Homo sapiens: one gene and its partners. The protein of the gene in region 1 purifies or fractionates together with the protein of each later gene. This does not show direct contact. Each region holds a gene or a part of one and is shown on either strand. Other genes may lie near its edges. The genes, in order: ARHGEF5, LMNB2, GLOD4 and CCDC86.

Evidence for each region.
Region 2: the proteins of ARHGEF5 (region 1) and LMNB2 purify together in Homo sapiens (affinity purification with mass spectrometry, with the first as the bait; one large-scale study listed by BioGRID). This does not show direct contact.
Region 3: the proteins of ARHGEF5 (region 1) and GLOD4 purify together in Homo sapiens (affinity purification with mass spectrometry, with the first as the bait; one large-scale study listed by BioGRID). This does not show direct contact.
Region 4: the proteins of ARHGEF5 (region 1) and CCDC86 purify together in Homo sapiens (affinity purification with mass spectrometry, with the first as the bait; one large-scale study listed by BioGRID). This does not show direct contact.

The regions. Positions count from the first base shown.
Region 1 is NC_000007.14:144,354,042-144,358,249, forward strand, and holds the start of ARHGEF5 (rho guanine nucleotide exchange factor 5), read left to right. Parts: upstream 1-1,360; 5' UTR 1,361-1,460; exon of another isoform or gene 1,461-1,677; intron 1,678-4,208. UniProt on the Homo sapiens protein: Guanine nucleotide exchange factor which activates Rho GTPases. Strongly activates RHOA. Also strongly activates RHOB, weakly activates RHOC and RHOG and shows no effect on RHOD, RHOV, RHOQ or RAC1.
Region 2 is NC_000019.10:2,443,399-2,446,963, reverse strand, and holds part of LMNB2 (lamin-B2), read left to right. Parts: intron 1-2,423; coding exon 2,424-2,560; intron 2,561-3,565. UniProt on the Homo sapiens protein: Lamins are intermediate filament proteins that assemble into a filamentous meshwork, and which constitute the major components of the nuclear lamina, a fibrous layer on the nucleoplasmic side of the inner nuclear membrane.
Region 3 is NC_000017.11:765,247-768,811, reverse strand, and holds part of GLOD4 (glyoxalase domain-containing protein 4), read left to right. Parts: intron 1-3,565.
Region 4 is NC_000011.10:60,845,079-60,848,377, reverse strand, and holds part of CCDC86 (coiled-coil domain-containing protein 86), read right to left. Parts: intron 455-3,299; coding exon 325-454; intron 1-324.

The DNA of each region.
Region 1 (4,208 bases):
TCTGTGTGTGCACACAGGCACACTCGAGAGACTTTTGGCATTCTTTGAAGTCACTGGAGGGGCACAGAGATAAACCCACTCAGCCTTGGCCTCCAAGACTAACAGAACACAACGTTTCCCTGAAAGAATAAAAAAAAAAATACAGGCATAAGAAAACACACAAACATGGGCTTAGAGATTTAAATACACACACACACACACACACACACACACACACACAGGCCCTAGAAGGAACATACACCCTGAGATACGCACTCATTCTAAAATAAACTCGGGAATACAGAAGGACACGGGCATGTCCTTTCAGAGAGGCACACTTCTAGGCCCTAAGTAGGAGAAGGAAGAGGGGAGAGGAAGAGGCAGGGAGAGGGACAGGGAGGGGGGAGGAGGGAGGGAGAGAGAGAGAGAAACGAAGAAGGGGGCGGAGGAGGAGATGGAGGAGACACTCTTTATTCTATAGGAGGAGACATCACGGAAGAGAAATCAACACTGAGGCCTTGGCCGGGCGCGGTGGCTCACGCCTGTAATCCCAGCACTTTGGGAGGCCGAGGCGGGTGCATCACCTGAGGTCAGGAGTTTCCAGACCAGCCTGGCCAACATGGCGAAACCCGGCCTCTACTAAAAAATACAAAAATTAGCCGGGCATGGTGGCGCGGACCTGTAATCCCAGCTACTCGGGAGGCTGAGGCAGGAGAATCTCTTGAACCCGGAGACGGAGGTTGCAGTGAGCCGAGATCGCGCCATTGCACTCCAGCCTGGGCAACAGGGCGAGACTCCGTCTCAGAAACAACAACAACAACAACAACAACAACAACATCAACAACAACAACAACAACAACGAACAAACCAAAAACCAATGAGGCCTGAAGATAAAGACACATGTACAACCACGGATGTCAGACTTCCAGAGGCACGGCCAAGGCAAAAGACAAACACATACAGACTGCAGCAGGCAGACAGGCCGGTTCCAGAGTCAGGCTCCGGTGAAGCTCCGAAGAAACAAACACGCAGGGAGATTTCGGAGGCGTCCGAGGACACCGTGGGGCCCGGCTGGCTCCCTCTGTCTCTGTGCGCGCCCCTTCCCCGGGTCACCCCGCCTGCGCCCGACCTGCGCCCGCGCACCGCGCCCTCGGGGCTCCCTGGGACAGCCCGCGGCCTGGCCCGTGCGCCCGGGCTCCCCTCCCCGCCGGCCCGGCACTTCCCAGCTCTGACGCGGGAGCTTCTTTCACACCAATGGGGCTCGCGCGCGGAGGGGCCCTGCCCCTCCTCCGGGAAGGTGTGTCCCTGTTTCCTCACCTGAAACTTCCTAGGAGAACCCGATCCCTCCCTCCCGTCGGGCGGCCAGGGGCGGGCCGCGGGTGGGGCGGCCGGGCCTGCGCTGGGGACGGCTCTGGGGACTGCGGCCGGCGCCGGGACCTGGAGGGGACGCTGGGGCCGAAGCAGCATGTGACACCGACCAGGTGGGTGCCCTCCTCCCGTCTCGGCCCTGGGCTCCCGGCGGCTGTGGAGCCCGGCGGAGGTGGGGCAGGGACAGGAAGGAAGAGGAAGCCAGGCCTTTCCCAGGGATCAGCCCCCGCTGGGTCCGGGGCGCAGGCTCCGGAAATGGGGGGGCTGGGCCCGCAGGCAGGGCTCGGGGTGTGTGGCTGAGGACCCTGGTGGGGAAGAGGAGAGGAACTAGAGGAAATGTTGTTGCCTACAAGTTTGCTTCCGGTCGGGTCCCGCCTAGGAAATGGGCACCCTGCCCCCAGACGTTCCCCGGGCCAATAATCAGGGCTCTTTCTTCAAAGTAGGCGCCCTGGGGAAAGCTAAGCCATATCAGAAGGAATAACTGAGATTCCCTTTCTAGGCTGTTCCTTACCTGGAGAGGTTTTATCGGCTCCTTTTCCTTAACCAGGCCGGGGCCTTTCCTTATGTATCTCCATAGGTATTTGCATACTGTGTGAGTCTATGTGTAGCTTCTCTCCGTGTTAACCAAAGCTCCGTAACCTGGAACAGTGAATCCTGCCCTGCCCCTCACCCCAGTTCCCTACATATGGGGAGCCTCCTAAAGCTTGATGTGAATCACAACGTTGCATTCTTAGCAAGGTGGAAAGAAGTTATTTAGAGTTGGGGGCTGAGGTAGGCGTTGGGGTGCTAGAATGCGGACGCAGAGCTCTAGAACCCCTGAGCATCTTTTGCAGTTGCCTTCCGGCAAGACTACCGGAGGAGAGCCAGTTGTGATACTACGTCATTTCCAGATCTCAGTCCCTTTCTTCCCTTCCTGGATCTTGGGTTCCAAAGACAGATTTGCCCTCCTGTCTACCTAGAAGTGAACTCTGGCCAGGACTCTTGTCTGGTTGAGAGAGAAGGGTGTGTCAAACAGATGAGAGAGGGTGGTTTTCCTTTCGAGCTTCCTCCCTAGCTTGCTCCCCTACTGCACTCCACTGTCTGGCCTTGCATCTTGGGCCTAATCCAGAGGTCCCAGCTCCAGCTAAAAAGCTCTTGATGTGGCCTCTGTCTCAGACGTCTTGTTTTATCCACATTTGGAGCATGAAGAAGTTCCTGGCATAGGCCTTAGCAAAATGGGTGTCATTTGTTAACCAATCTGTGGGCCTAAAAGTGAAGCCATGGCTAGTGAAGGAGTCCTGGGGAGCTGGGAAGATGGGATGAGGGCGTGTCAGTTCTGGGTGAGACTGATATGCAGGAGGAATGTATGTCATGGTCCTAGTGGGGAGGAGAGAGAAATCAGGAGGAGTGCAAAGGAATCCCTCTCATCAACAGAATATAGTGATTCTCAATAGAGAGAAGAGTGTTCATATATTAGAGGTCCTGAGAGTGTATCAGTGCCCTTAACGCGGTCTGTCTGAGGTTCCGTGGCCACGTTACACGTGGTGTCTGTGGGATAGACAGGAATACGTCATTTGTGGTGTCTGGAGAGGTCAGTCGCTATGTGGTATGGACAGGAATGGAGTCACTCGTAGGGTCTTGGGTTCAACGGGAGCAGCATTACTCAAGTGTCAGTGGTGTAGACAAACAGGTGACCAACAGCTCTAGTGTAGACAGGGGCTGGGTCACTCACAGTGTCTGTGGAGTAAGCAGGAGCCGATCACTTATAGTGCCTGCAAGGTAGACTGGAACAAAGTCACCCTCAAGGTCTGTGTTAATACACAAACACGTCACTCACACTAATGTTATCTGTGTGTATGCCACCAGGACCACAGATGAGATTGTAGAGTGTAAGTCAGCATTGACACTAATAATGTTCTTATATAAACTATCTGGTCTATAAGGCAGTTGGTGTGACATTTTCAGACATTAGAGAATAGATAAATGTGTATTACAGCTTTCACTGGCATGGTGGGACTTTCCTGCAATGGATAGAACACACACTGTAGTAGTCAGTGGTCCAGAAAGCTACCCCTGTTTTGATATCTTTGTAGTATTGAGGGCAGTGATGTCAAACAGTGAATAAAGTTATATATCTATGTGGTGATCTTATTTTAACCTCAATATTATTTTAGTGATTTGTAAGTCAGAATATTTGAAATCAACCTTGCTAGAAAATCCAGGAAGCATGGTCCTCAAAAATATATATATGGCACTGAGTCTCAGTTCAAAGATTTGGCAGTTTGATTGGGGAGGGGTTGTATCCTTGAAATACAGTGTTGTTTCTAGTGACTAGAAATAGACAAGAGCTAAGGTGTTGGGGGGGGCTCTAGGGAAGATAGTGAGCTCTGTCACACATTATGTTAAAGGGATGACTTGAAGCTTTGCCTCTCAAGAAGTCACACGTGGGTGAGGTTATGTGGATGCAGAATGTCTGTGGTCTGAAGCAAGGCCGTATCCCCATAATCCCATGCCCTGGCTTTGCCTGTACACAGATAAACAGTGATTATTCACCCTCAGTGGAGAAGGAGATGAGGATGTTTGCACTCTAACGTAATGAGCATTGCAAAAAACTCTCTCCTGATGCCTTTACGTGAGTAAGACCATGATTTACAGATTTCCTTTCACTTTGTCACATTTTAGCTTTGTCATGCCTGATTGCAACGGGATCACTGAGATAGGATCAAGTATAGGGAACGTGGGGTATGTTCTCCCTTTGCGGTAACTGGTGGCTGAGCAGGTGACCACTGATATTTCCAAATGAAAAAAGACAGTTAGAAACGGTGTCAATGGGCTTGCAGAGGCAGGCATGCACTGTGCCACTAGATTGGAACAGAAAATGT
Region 2 (3,565 bases), on another chromosome or scaffold:
TTTCACTGTGTTAGCCAGGATGGTCTCGATCTCCTGACCTTGTGATCCGCCCGCCTCGGCTTCCCAAAGTGCTGGGATTACAGGTGTGAGCCACTGCGCCCGGCACCATGTGTAGTTTTCAAACATGCATGGATGTGAATTTCATGTCTTCTGGGTCCACACCCAGGAGTGGAGTTACCGGGTCACAGGGTGGCTCTGTGACTCTTGGGGGAGCCCCTGGACTGTTTTCTGTAGAGCTGTCTCAGCTCAGGTTCCTGCCGCTGCCTGTGAGGTTCCGATTTCTCTGCGTACTCGCCCGCACCTGCGACTGTCTGTCTTCTTGACGGACGCCCTGGCTGGTGCGAAGTGGCATCTCACTGCGGTTTGCTTCCACATATTTTTAAACTCACTGAGTGCATGGCCCTGTGGGAGGAGGGGAGGCAGGAAGGCCACTAGAAGCCTGAGCTGTGCCCCCAGCTGGCGCGTGCAGAGGCCGGGCAGGTGGCGGCTGTGGTTGCAGCAGGATTAGTAGGAAGTGAAGAGGTCGCCTTCCCTGGCACCGCATGTGCCTCGAGTTCACCTGGAGGCCCTCGAGAGGGGCGGGTTTGGGGGCTTTGCGCGGGGCTTAGGGAGGGGCTTTCTTTAGCTGGGCGGCCCAGAGGGTGTTCCAGTCGCTTCTGCCTGCCCTGGTGACCCCTGGCTCTCCAGCCCCTCCCCATGTCCTTGCTGGCTGGGCTGGGTCTCCGTCGGGAAAGGTGGGGGCCGCTGGTGGGGTGGGGAGCTGGAGACTCTGACTACAGATCCCTGTGATCGAGGGGTGAAAGGTGGGGGTGACTGGTGGGGGGGGCAGCTGGGGACTGACTACAGATCCCTGTGATCGAGGGGTGAAAGGTGGGGGCGGCTGGTGGGGTGGGGAGTTGGGGACTCTGACTACAGATCCCTGTGATTGAGGGGTGAAAGGTGGGGGCAGCTGGTGGGGTGGGGAGTTGGGGACTCTGACTACAGATCCCTGTGATCGACGGGTGAAAGGTGGGGGCGGCTGGTTGGGGGGGGCAGCTGGGGACTGACTACAGATCCCTGTGATCGAGGGGTGAAAGGTGGGGGCGGCTGGTGGGGTGGGGAGTTGGGGACTCTGACTACAGATCGCTGTGATCGAGGGGTGAAAGGTGGGGGCCGCTGGTGGGGTGGGGAGCTGGGGACTCTGACTGCAGATCCCTGTGATCGAGGGGTGAAACGTGGGGGCCGCTGGTGGGGTGGGGAGCTGGGGACTCTGACTGCAGATCCCTGTGATCGAGGGGTGAAAGGTGGGGGCCGCTGGTGGGGTAGGGAGCTGGGGACTCTGACTGCAGATCCCTGTGATCGAGGGGTGAAAGGTGGGGGCCGCTGGTGGGGTGGGGAGTTGGGGACTCTGACTACAGATCCCTGTGATCGAGGGGTGAAAGGTGGGGGCCGCTGGTGGGGTGGGGAGCTGGGGACTCTGACTGCAGATCTCTGTGATTGAGGGGTGGGAGCTTCTGTCCTGGAGCCTCCGAGCCACCACATTGGCAGCTGGCCTGTCGGGGGGACACAGCATGGGAAGGCCAGATGCTCCTCCCTCCATCCCAGGGAACAGCCCAGCCTGAGCCTGGGCCATGTGCCTGCGTGTGAGGTAGGGGCACAGAGGGGCACGGGCTGGCCCCCGGTTGGCAGAAGTGGGGGATCTTGGGCTCAGCGGGGTCTGGGGGAGCGGGGGCTCCAGGTTGCAGAGGCCTGGGGGGAGTCTCAGGGGCCCAGAGGGGTCTGGGAGGGGACTCCAGGTTGCAAAGGCTGGTGGGGGCAGGGGGCTCTCAGGCCCAGTGGGGTCTGGGAGGGCCCCGGGTTGCTGTCATCACCAGTTGTCCGAGAGTGATCAGCCCAGTGTCCATGGTGCCCAGCGGGAGAGATCCTTGATTAAACATCCCACCAGTTTTCTGGTTCTGAAACCGAGAGTGTGAAAAATGCATCTAATGGCCAGGCATCGTGTCGCTATGACAGCGGCCAAGGGGCTGCATGTCCAGGTGTGGCTGGTCCTCCGGGGAAGGGGACAGGCTCCATCCAGCTGCTGTGCTGGTCCAGGCCCAGGGCCTTTGGTCTCCAGCACTGGGCGCCGCTGTTCTGGGAGCTGGAGCTCGTGGAGAGACGATCATTCCAGAGGGGGCCGCAGCAGAGGAGGAGGCTCCTGGGATGGCTGGGACCCAGGGTCGCCTGGCTTCCTCCTGGTTACCGGACCCTCCCCGACAGGGGGCTCCCTTTGCTGTGTCTGTGAGATGGGCAACACAGGGTGTCCCAGTGTCCCCAGGCTGCCATCCTCTCTCTCTGCGTGCCAGTCCCTGGGAATCTGAGCAGGGCCAGTGGCCGGGCCCCCTGACTGCTGTAGTCCAAGGGGAAGGGTCCCTCTCGCTTCACCCTGTCCTGGGTCTCCCCAGGTGAGTGGCATCAAGGCGCTGTACGAGTCGGAGCTGGCCGATGCCCGGAGAGTCCTGGATGAGACGGCTCGAGAGCGTGCCCGGCTGCAGATAGAGATTGGGAAGCTGAGGGCAGAGTTGGACGAGGTCAACAAGAGGTGAGTGGTCACGGCTGGGCACGACGTCACCCTGATCCTGGCACCACGGGGTGGACGGGGGCAGGTGGGCGCTGGGCTCGTGCGGGGCATGCTCTGATACGGGCACAGCCTGGAGCTCACAGCTCCCATCCTCTCTCCCCCACCAGTGGCTGCCACGTCACTTTTTCTGTTCTGAGGAAAGTGATAGATGCTCACATCGGACAGCAGGAAGCGCAGGGCAGCTTAAGCTCACAAGTAAAATCTCCCGCGAGCCTCCCCAGAGAGGGCTTCCTGGTCAGCCTGGCCTGTCTCCTTAGTGTGCACACGCGCTTGCACATGCTTACCTAGACCCCGGGCGGCACCCAGTGGACACCGTGAGACGCGTTTGACCTCAGGCCCCATCGTAGGCATTTCCCTGTGGTTGGATGTTCTTGGTGCCGGGGTTTTGTCCCAGCTGTTGGGACGCTCGGGTGTGTGGTGTGTGACCAGGGTGCTCATGGGTTGTTGGGCTGCCCCAGGGTTGGCTGCAAAGTCCTTCTGGGTGACAACTGTGTCCATCGGCAGAAACGATCTCCCCTCTCAGCCTGGCAGTGAGTCTTGCCTGATTCTGGGCGTGGGATGTGGTTGGGCGGCAATTTAAACAGAACGATGATGACAAAAGGAATATTTATTCAGAGGAGCCAGGAGGCCAATGAAACACTGAGCTCAAGGCTTTTCTTGATGTGAGGCTCCAGCTAGAGCGAGGTCTCTGGTGCCCTGCGTGTGGACACTGTCTTCCGTGGTCTCCGGCCACCGGCATTCAGGCACCTGCAGGTGCCTCGGATTTCCTCAGGCTGGGGTGGGTCAGGGTCTTCCCACACTGCTCATTCTCCCAGAGCCACGCAGGCCTGGCTCAGCATGGAGGGATCTGCTGGCAGGAGGGGTGGCACCTCGGCCACCTGGTACGGGGGTGACAGCAGCCAGTGGCTTGAGAATCCACGTTGTCCCTGAGTTGGAGTGTGGCCAGAGGAATGACCGGGGACCCTG
Region 3 (3,565 bases), on another chromosome or scaffold:
TCTAAAAATCTGAGTGCGCGCTGTTTCTCTCTCTCACATCCTCTCCAGATTTCTTCTAAAAATCTGAGTGCGCGCTGTTTCTCTCTCTCACGTCCTCTCCAGATTTCTTCCTCTAAAAATCTGAGTGCGCGCTGTTTCTCCCTCTCACGTCCTCTCCAGATTTCTTCTTCTAAAAATCTGAGTGCGCGCTGTTTCTCTCTCTCACGTCCTCTCCAGACTTCTTCTTCTAAAAATCTGAGTGCGCGCTGTTTCTCTCTCTCACGTCCTCTCCAGATTTCTTCTAAAAATCTGAGTGCGCGCTGTTTCTCTCTCTCACGTCCTCTCCAGATTTCTTCTAAAAATCTGAGTGCGCGCTGTTTCTCCCTCTTATGTCCTCTCCAGATTTCTTCTAAAAATCTGAGCGCGCGCTGTTTCTCTCTCTTACGTCCTCTCCAGATTTCTTCTTCTAAAAATCTGAGTGCGCGCTGTTTCTCTCTCTCACGTCCTCTTCAGATTTCTTCTTCTAAAAATCTGAGTGCGCCCTGTTTCTCTCTCTCACATCCTCTCCAGATTTCTTCTAAAAATCTGAGTGCGCGCTGTTTCTCTCTCACACATCCTCTCCAGATTTCTTCTTCTAAAAATCTGAGTGTGCGCCGTTTCTCTCTCTCACGTCCTCTCCAGATTTCTTCTAAAAATCTGAGTGCACGCTGTTTCTCTCTCACACATCCTCTCCAGATTTCTTCTTCTAAAAATCTGAGTGCGCGCTGTTTCTCTCTCTCACGTCCTCTCCAGATTTCTTCTTCTAAAAATCTGAGTGCGCGCTGTTTCTCTCTCTCACGTCCTCTCCAGATTTCTTCTAAAAATCTGAGTGCGCGCTGTTTCTCTCTCTTACGTCCTCTCCAGATTTTTTCTAAAAATCTGAGTGCGCGCTGTTTCTCTCTCTTACGTCCTCTCCAGATTTCTTCTTCTAAAAATCTGAGTGCGCGCTGTTTCTCTCTCACATACTCTCCAGATTTCTTCTAAAAATCTGAGTGCGCGCTGTTTCTCTCTCTCACATCCTCTCCAGATTTCTTCTAAAAATCTGAGTGCGCGCTGTTTCCCTCTCTTACGTCCTCTCCAGATTTCTTCTTCTAAAAATCTGAATGCGCGCTGTTTCTCTCTCTCACGTCCTCTCCAGATTTCTTCTTCTAAAAATCTGAGTGCGTGCTGTTTCTCTCTCTCACGTCCTCTCTAGATTTCTTCTTCTAAAAATCTGAGTGTGCGCTGTTTCTCTCTCTTACGTCCTCTCCAGATTTCTTCTCTAAAAATCTGAGTGCGCGCTGTTTCTCCCTCTTACGTCCTCTCCAGATTTCTTCTTCTAAAAATCTGAGTGTGCACTGTTTCTCTTTCTCGCCTCCCATTTTCACTTCAGTCTGTTTTGCACTGGCTCTTGTTACTCAGTGAAGTGCTTTTGTTTCTTGCCAAATATAGCAACTACTTTTAGATTCTCATCAAACTCAGTAATTCAGAAGCATTCAAAGTAGTTGTTGGATCCTAGCTCCTAGCACATACCTGGCATGTACTAGACGTTCTGCAAATACTTTGTTGAATGATTAAAGGAACAAATTGGTCTTTCTTGGTTCTGTCACGTAACTCTGTGACTGACCTTAAACAGTTGACTTAAATTCTTTGAACTTTAGTCTTCTTATCCAAAAATTTCAGAAAATAAGAGGATCTATCTCATAAGATTGTTATGGTTTATAGAGCTTGGCAAATTACTGACATAATAGTAGATGCACAATTAACGTTAAAGCAGGCAATGTATAGAAAATACAGTCTTTATACATTTTATCCTGAAGGAAAGTAGAATCTGTCATCCTCTCAGCTGACAAATTTGCCAGACTCTTCCTCCTCGCTCTTAATTTAATTAAATTAATTACTGAATTAAATTTTTTGAGATGGAGTCTAGCTCTGTCGCCCAGGGTGGAGTGCAATGGTGCAATCTTGCCTCACTGCAACCTTCGCCTCCCAGGGTCAAGCGATTCTTCTGCCTCGGCCTCCCAAGGAGCTGGAACTACAGGCACTTGCCACCATGCTGGCTAATTTTTGTATTTTTAGTAGAGACAGGGTTTTGCCAGGTTGGCCAGGCTGGTCTCAAACTCCTAGCCTCAAGTGATCTACCCACCTCATCCTCCTAAAGTGCTGGGATTACAGGTGTGAGCCACTGTGCCTGGCCCATTTTATTTTATTTATTTTTTGAGACGGATTCTTGCTCTGTCAACTAGGCTGGAGTGCAGTGGCATAATCTTGGCTCACTGCAACCTCCACCTCCCGGGATCAAGCGATTCTCCTGCCTCAGCCTCCCAAGTAGCTGGGATTACAGGCACGTGCCACCACGCCTGGCTAATTTTTGTATTTTTAGTAGAGACGGGGCTTCACCATGTTGGCCAGGATGGTCTTGAACTCCTAACTTCAGGCGATCCGTCTGCCTTGGCCTCCCAAAGTGCTGGGATTACAGGCGTGAGCCACCACGCCTGGGCCCATTTTTTTTTTTTTAAGACGGGGTCTCTCTCTGTCACCGAGGCTGGAGTGCAGTGGCATGATCTCAGCTCACTGCAACCTCCGCCTCCTATGTTCCAGTGATCCTCCCACCTCAGCCTCCCTAGTAGCTGGAACCATAGGCGTGCGCCACCATGCCTGGCTAATTTTTGTATTTTTTCTAGAGATGGGGTTTCACCATGTTGCCCAGGCTGGTTTCAAACTTCCTGGGCTCAATCATTCGATCCATCTTGGCCTCCCAAAGTGCTGGGATTATAGATGTGAACCATTGATGAACTCCTGCTCCCTGAGCTCTCTTCTCCTCTGCTGTTAGCGATCCTGCCATTTTTCTTTTTTTTGAGTTGGGAGTCTCACTCTCTTGCCCAGGCTGGAGTGCAGTGGCGCGATCTCAGGTCACTGCAACCTCTGCCTCCCAGGTTCAAGCAGTTCTCTTGCCTCAGCCTCCTGAGTAGCTGGTAGCTGGGATTACAGGCACGCACCACCACACCTGGCTAATTTTTGTATTTTTAGTAGAGATGGGGTTTCACCATGTTGGTCAGGCTGGTTGAGTAGGCCGGGTGCGGTGGCTCACACCTGTAACCCCAGCCCTTTGGGAGGCCGAGGCGGGCGGATCACAAGGTCAGGAGATCGAGACCATCCTGGCTAACACGGTGAAACCCTGTCTCTTGAACTCCTGACCTCAGGTGATCCACCCTCCTCGGCCTCCCAAAGGGCTGGGATTATAGGCGTGAGCCACTGCGCCTGGCCATCCTACCATTTTCATCTTCCTGACAGTTTCTCCTCAGACACGGGCACCTCTTTCTGTGTCTCATCCCAAAGTGTTTTTATACCCATAGCCCTACTTTGCTGTTTTTCCCATTCTGCATTCTTCCTCCACTCTGATGAGAGCTTACCTGCGACCTCTCCTTACCTCTGCCCTGAACGTAACCATCATCCTGGCTCCAGCCTCCTCACTTCCAGTTTTTAACTCCTTCCTCAGCTCAGACAGGTGGTTGTTGTTGATGAGGCATAATTTAGGTAGAATTTAAATGTGTTTTGACGGTTGTGT
Region 4 (3,299 bases), on another chromosome or scaffold:
CTGACTGCCCTACCACCCAGGACTTCCTCCCGGGCTTCTCCCCAAGGCCCGCTTCTGGTCCTCCCCCTCCGTCCCTGTCCCTGAGGCTCTTTCAGCAGCCCAGGCTAAACTGTATGGTCCCCTGGGCCTCCCTGCCCTGTAGTCCCAGATTGCACTTCTGCTTCTGGCCAGGTGCCCTTCCTCCCTCCGGCCTTCAGATTCAAGAACGTTTTTTAACCAAGTCGGCCTCCCCCAGGCACCCGTGGAGGCCCTCGCCTCAGGTCTGTACCAGTAGACACTAGCTTAGTCCTCTGAGCCCCAGCCTCAGCCTGGCTGGCCCCTCACCTGGCGGCGCCTCTCCTTCTCCTCCTCCAGGTGACGGGCAAAGTCCTTGGCCAGCTTCCTCTCCTGTCGTTCCTTCATCTTCCGCTGCCACGATGTGCGCAGGGGCTTGTCCTGAAGCATCTGGGAGAATCTGAAAGGGGGAGAGTGGGTGCATACAGGGTCTGTGGGGCAAGCGCCACCCATGCCCTGTCTCCTCTCGGCCGGAGGCTCTGGACCTTCTTCCCCAGAGCCCAGGCAGAACCACCTCCTTGCTGGCCTGACAGGCGGCCTTCCAGGGCTGCAGAAACTTGGGGCGGGAGGGAACCCTGATCGTGCTGGCTGCCATTTCTCAAGCCTTGGCTACATGCCTCTGAGGTGGGTACTCCTATCCTCTCCACTTACAGAGGAGCAGGCCAAGGCGCGGAGAGGTTAAATAGCTGCCTAAAGATACCTTGTGGCAGTCAGGACTTGAATCCTGTCAGCGACTGCAGAGTCCAGGCTACGCGGCCCCTGCTGTAAAGTTCTGTTGCTTCCGCCAAGTGCATTTGGCCCGGGTGTGAATGCCTCTGGAGGCGGGGCGCTCACCCCCTAGGGAGGTGGCCCATTCCATTTCAGAACAGTGTGAGTGGTTAAAGTTCTGGGTAATGATTCAGGATCTTCCCCGCCAAGACCGGATGCAGTGGTCATGCTTGTAATCCCAGCACTTTGGGAGGCCAAGGTGGGCAGACCACGTGAGTCCAGGAGTTGGAGACCAGCCGGGCAAACATGGCAAAACCTACTAAGCCTACTAAAACCTACTAAAGTTTCTACTAAAAATACAAAAATTAGCTGGGTGTGATGGTGTATGCCTATAGTCCCAGCTACTTGGGAGGCTGAGGTACAACAATTGCTTGAACCTGGGAGGTGGAGGTTGCAGTGAGCCGAGATCGCGCCACTGCACTCCAGCCTGGGTGACAGAGCAAGACTCTGTCTCAAAAAAAAAAAAGAAAAAAGAAAAAAGAAAAAGAATCTCTTCCCCCAGTTGGAGATGAAGTGGGCATCAGGGCTCTCAGGGAAATCTGAAAAGAGCAACGATGATTTTAGAGTTACAGGAGAACTGAGCTCATCTCTGTAAAAATGCATACTACAAGGATTTATGAATGGGATGATATGTCTAGGATGTACTTTAAAATATTTCAGGGAAAAAAAAATGCCAAAGATCAGCCGGGCGCAGTGGCTCACGCCTGTAATCCCAGCACTTTGGGAGGCTGAGGTGGGCCGATCACCTAAGGTCGGGAGTTCGAGACCAGCTTGACCAACATGGAGAAACCCTGTCTCTACTAAAAATACAAAATTAGCTGGGTGTGGTGGCACACACCTGTAATCCCAGCTACTTGGGAGGCTGAGGCAGGAGAATCGCTTGAACCCAGGAGGCGGAGGTTGCGGTGAGCCGAGATTGCTCCATTGCACTCTGGCCTGGGCAACAAGAATGAAACTCCGTCTCAAAACAAAAAAAAAGAAAAAAAGAAAAAAAAGCCAAGTATCAAAGATGAAGCTACACTAGTAAAATGCTGAGCTGTGTTGATGCTGATAATGGGGACTTGAGAGCTTTGCTCTTTCTTTGTATGCTTGAAAATTTCCATTCAAAAAAAGTAAAAACAAAATGCAAAGAAGTCTCTCGGTGGCCTCCACATGCTGAAATTAGGTCTTTCTCTTTTAAAGATTCAAGGCCCATTTTGGTGTCCCTTGGCCCTGCCGACTTCTGGCCCCAGCTCCCTGATTTCCTTCTCCCCTTCCCAAGGCCTTGCCACTGAAGGCCTGGCCTCCTAAGCACTAAGAATGGGGTGCCACATGGACTTCCCCCATAACTGTAAAGCTGGGCTTCCCAAGCTGGGGTACGAGAACCCTGAAGGGACAAGGTGTTGGGAGCCTAGAGACACACAGAACCACAAGACACAGTGCTGCATCTGTGTAGAGCAGGGCTGTCAAACAGAACGTTCTGTGATGGTGGAAACATTCCACATTGACACTGTCCAATAAGGTAGCCACTAGTCATGGGTGGCTGCTGAGCGCTAGAAATGTGGTTGGTGTTGATAGAGAAACTGAATCTTAAATTTTATTTAATTTTAATTAATTTAAATGTACATAGCCACATGTGGCTGGCGGCTAAGGTACTGAGGCAGGGCAGTTCCAGACCATTGGTTCTACCTGGGTATTGAGGAAACTCAGGCCTGGGTTCCAAGTCCAACCTGGGTGACCTGGAGCAAGGTAGCCTCTCTAAGTCTCAGCATCCTGTCCAGTGGAGATGAGAATCATTCCTAACCCAAAGGGTGGTGGGAGATTTAATCGACACACACACGTAATAGGTGCTCCATAAATGCTACTCCTCAGAGAAGGCAGACAGCATGCCCAAGGGCACTATGGAGAAAGTGGCGTTTGGCATGAGCACGAAGACAGGGCTGCAGCCAGGTCTCCCTCACCACATACACTTTCCCAGCTGCGGCTGTCTTCCTCCCTGCAGCAGGAGCTGCTTCCCACCCATCTCCAGGCTCACTTACTACCCACCGAAGCTGCTCCCTCAAAGATCCCAAACATCCATTCAGTGGCCCTGCTGGGCCCCTCGCCACAGACTTGCCTGCAGCTTCGGAAGCTGTTTTAGTTCTCTTGAGACAGCCTCCTTGTGGGTTTTCCTGCCTTCACCCCTGCCCGCCTATGTCTGTGTTCAGTAGCCAGGCTGATCTCACAAGTCAGGTCATTTCATTCCTTTGCTTGACACCCTTCCATGGCTCCCAAGCTCACTCAGGAAAGCCGGGAGTCCCTGTAAGGGTCACCAGGTCCTGCTGTCTCTCTGACCTCATCTCCTACTGTTCCCCTTCTCCCCCTCATTCCAGCAGCGAGACCTCTGGAAAGCCTCTCAAACGGGAGCTTGCTCCCGCCTCAATACCTCTGAACATCCCTTTCCTGTTGCCTGGATACTGTTTCCCCAGATCTCTGCCCGGCTCCCTCTGCTCAGACCT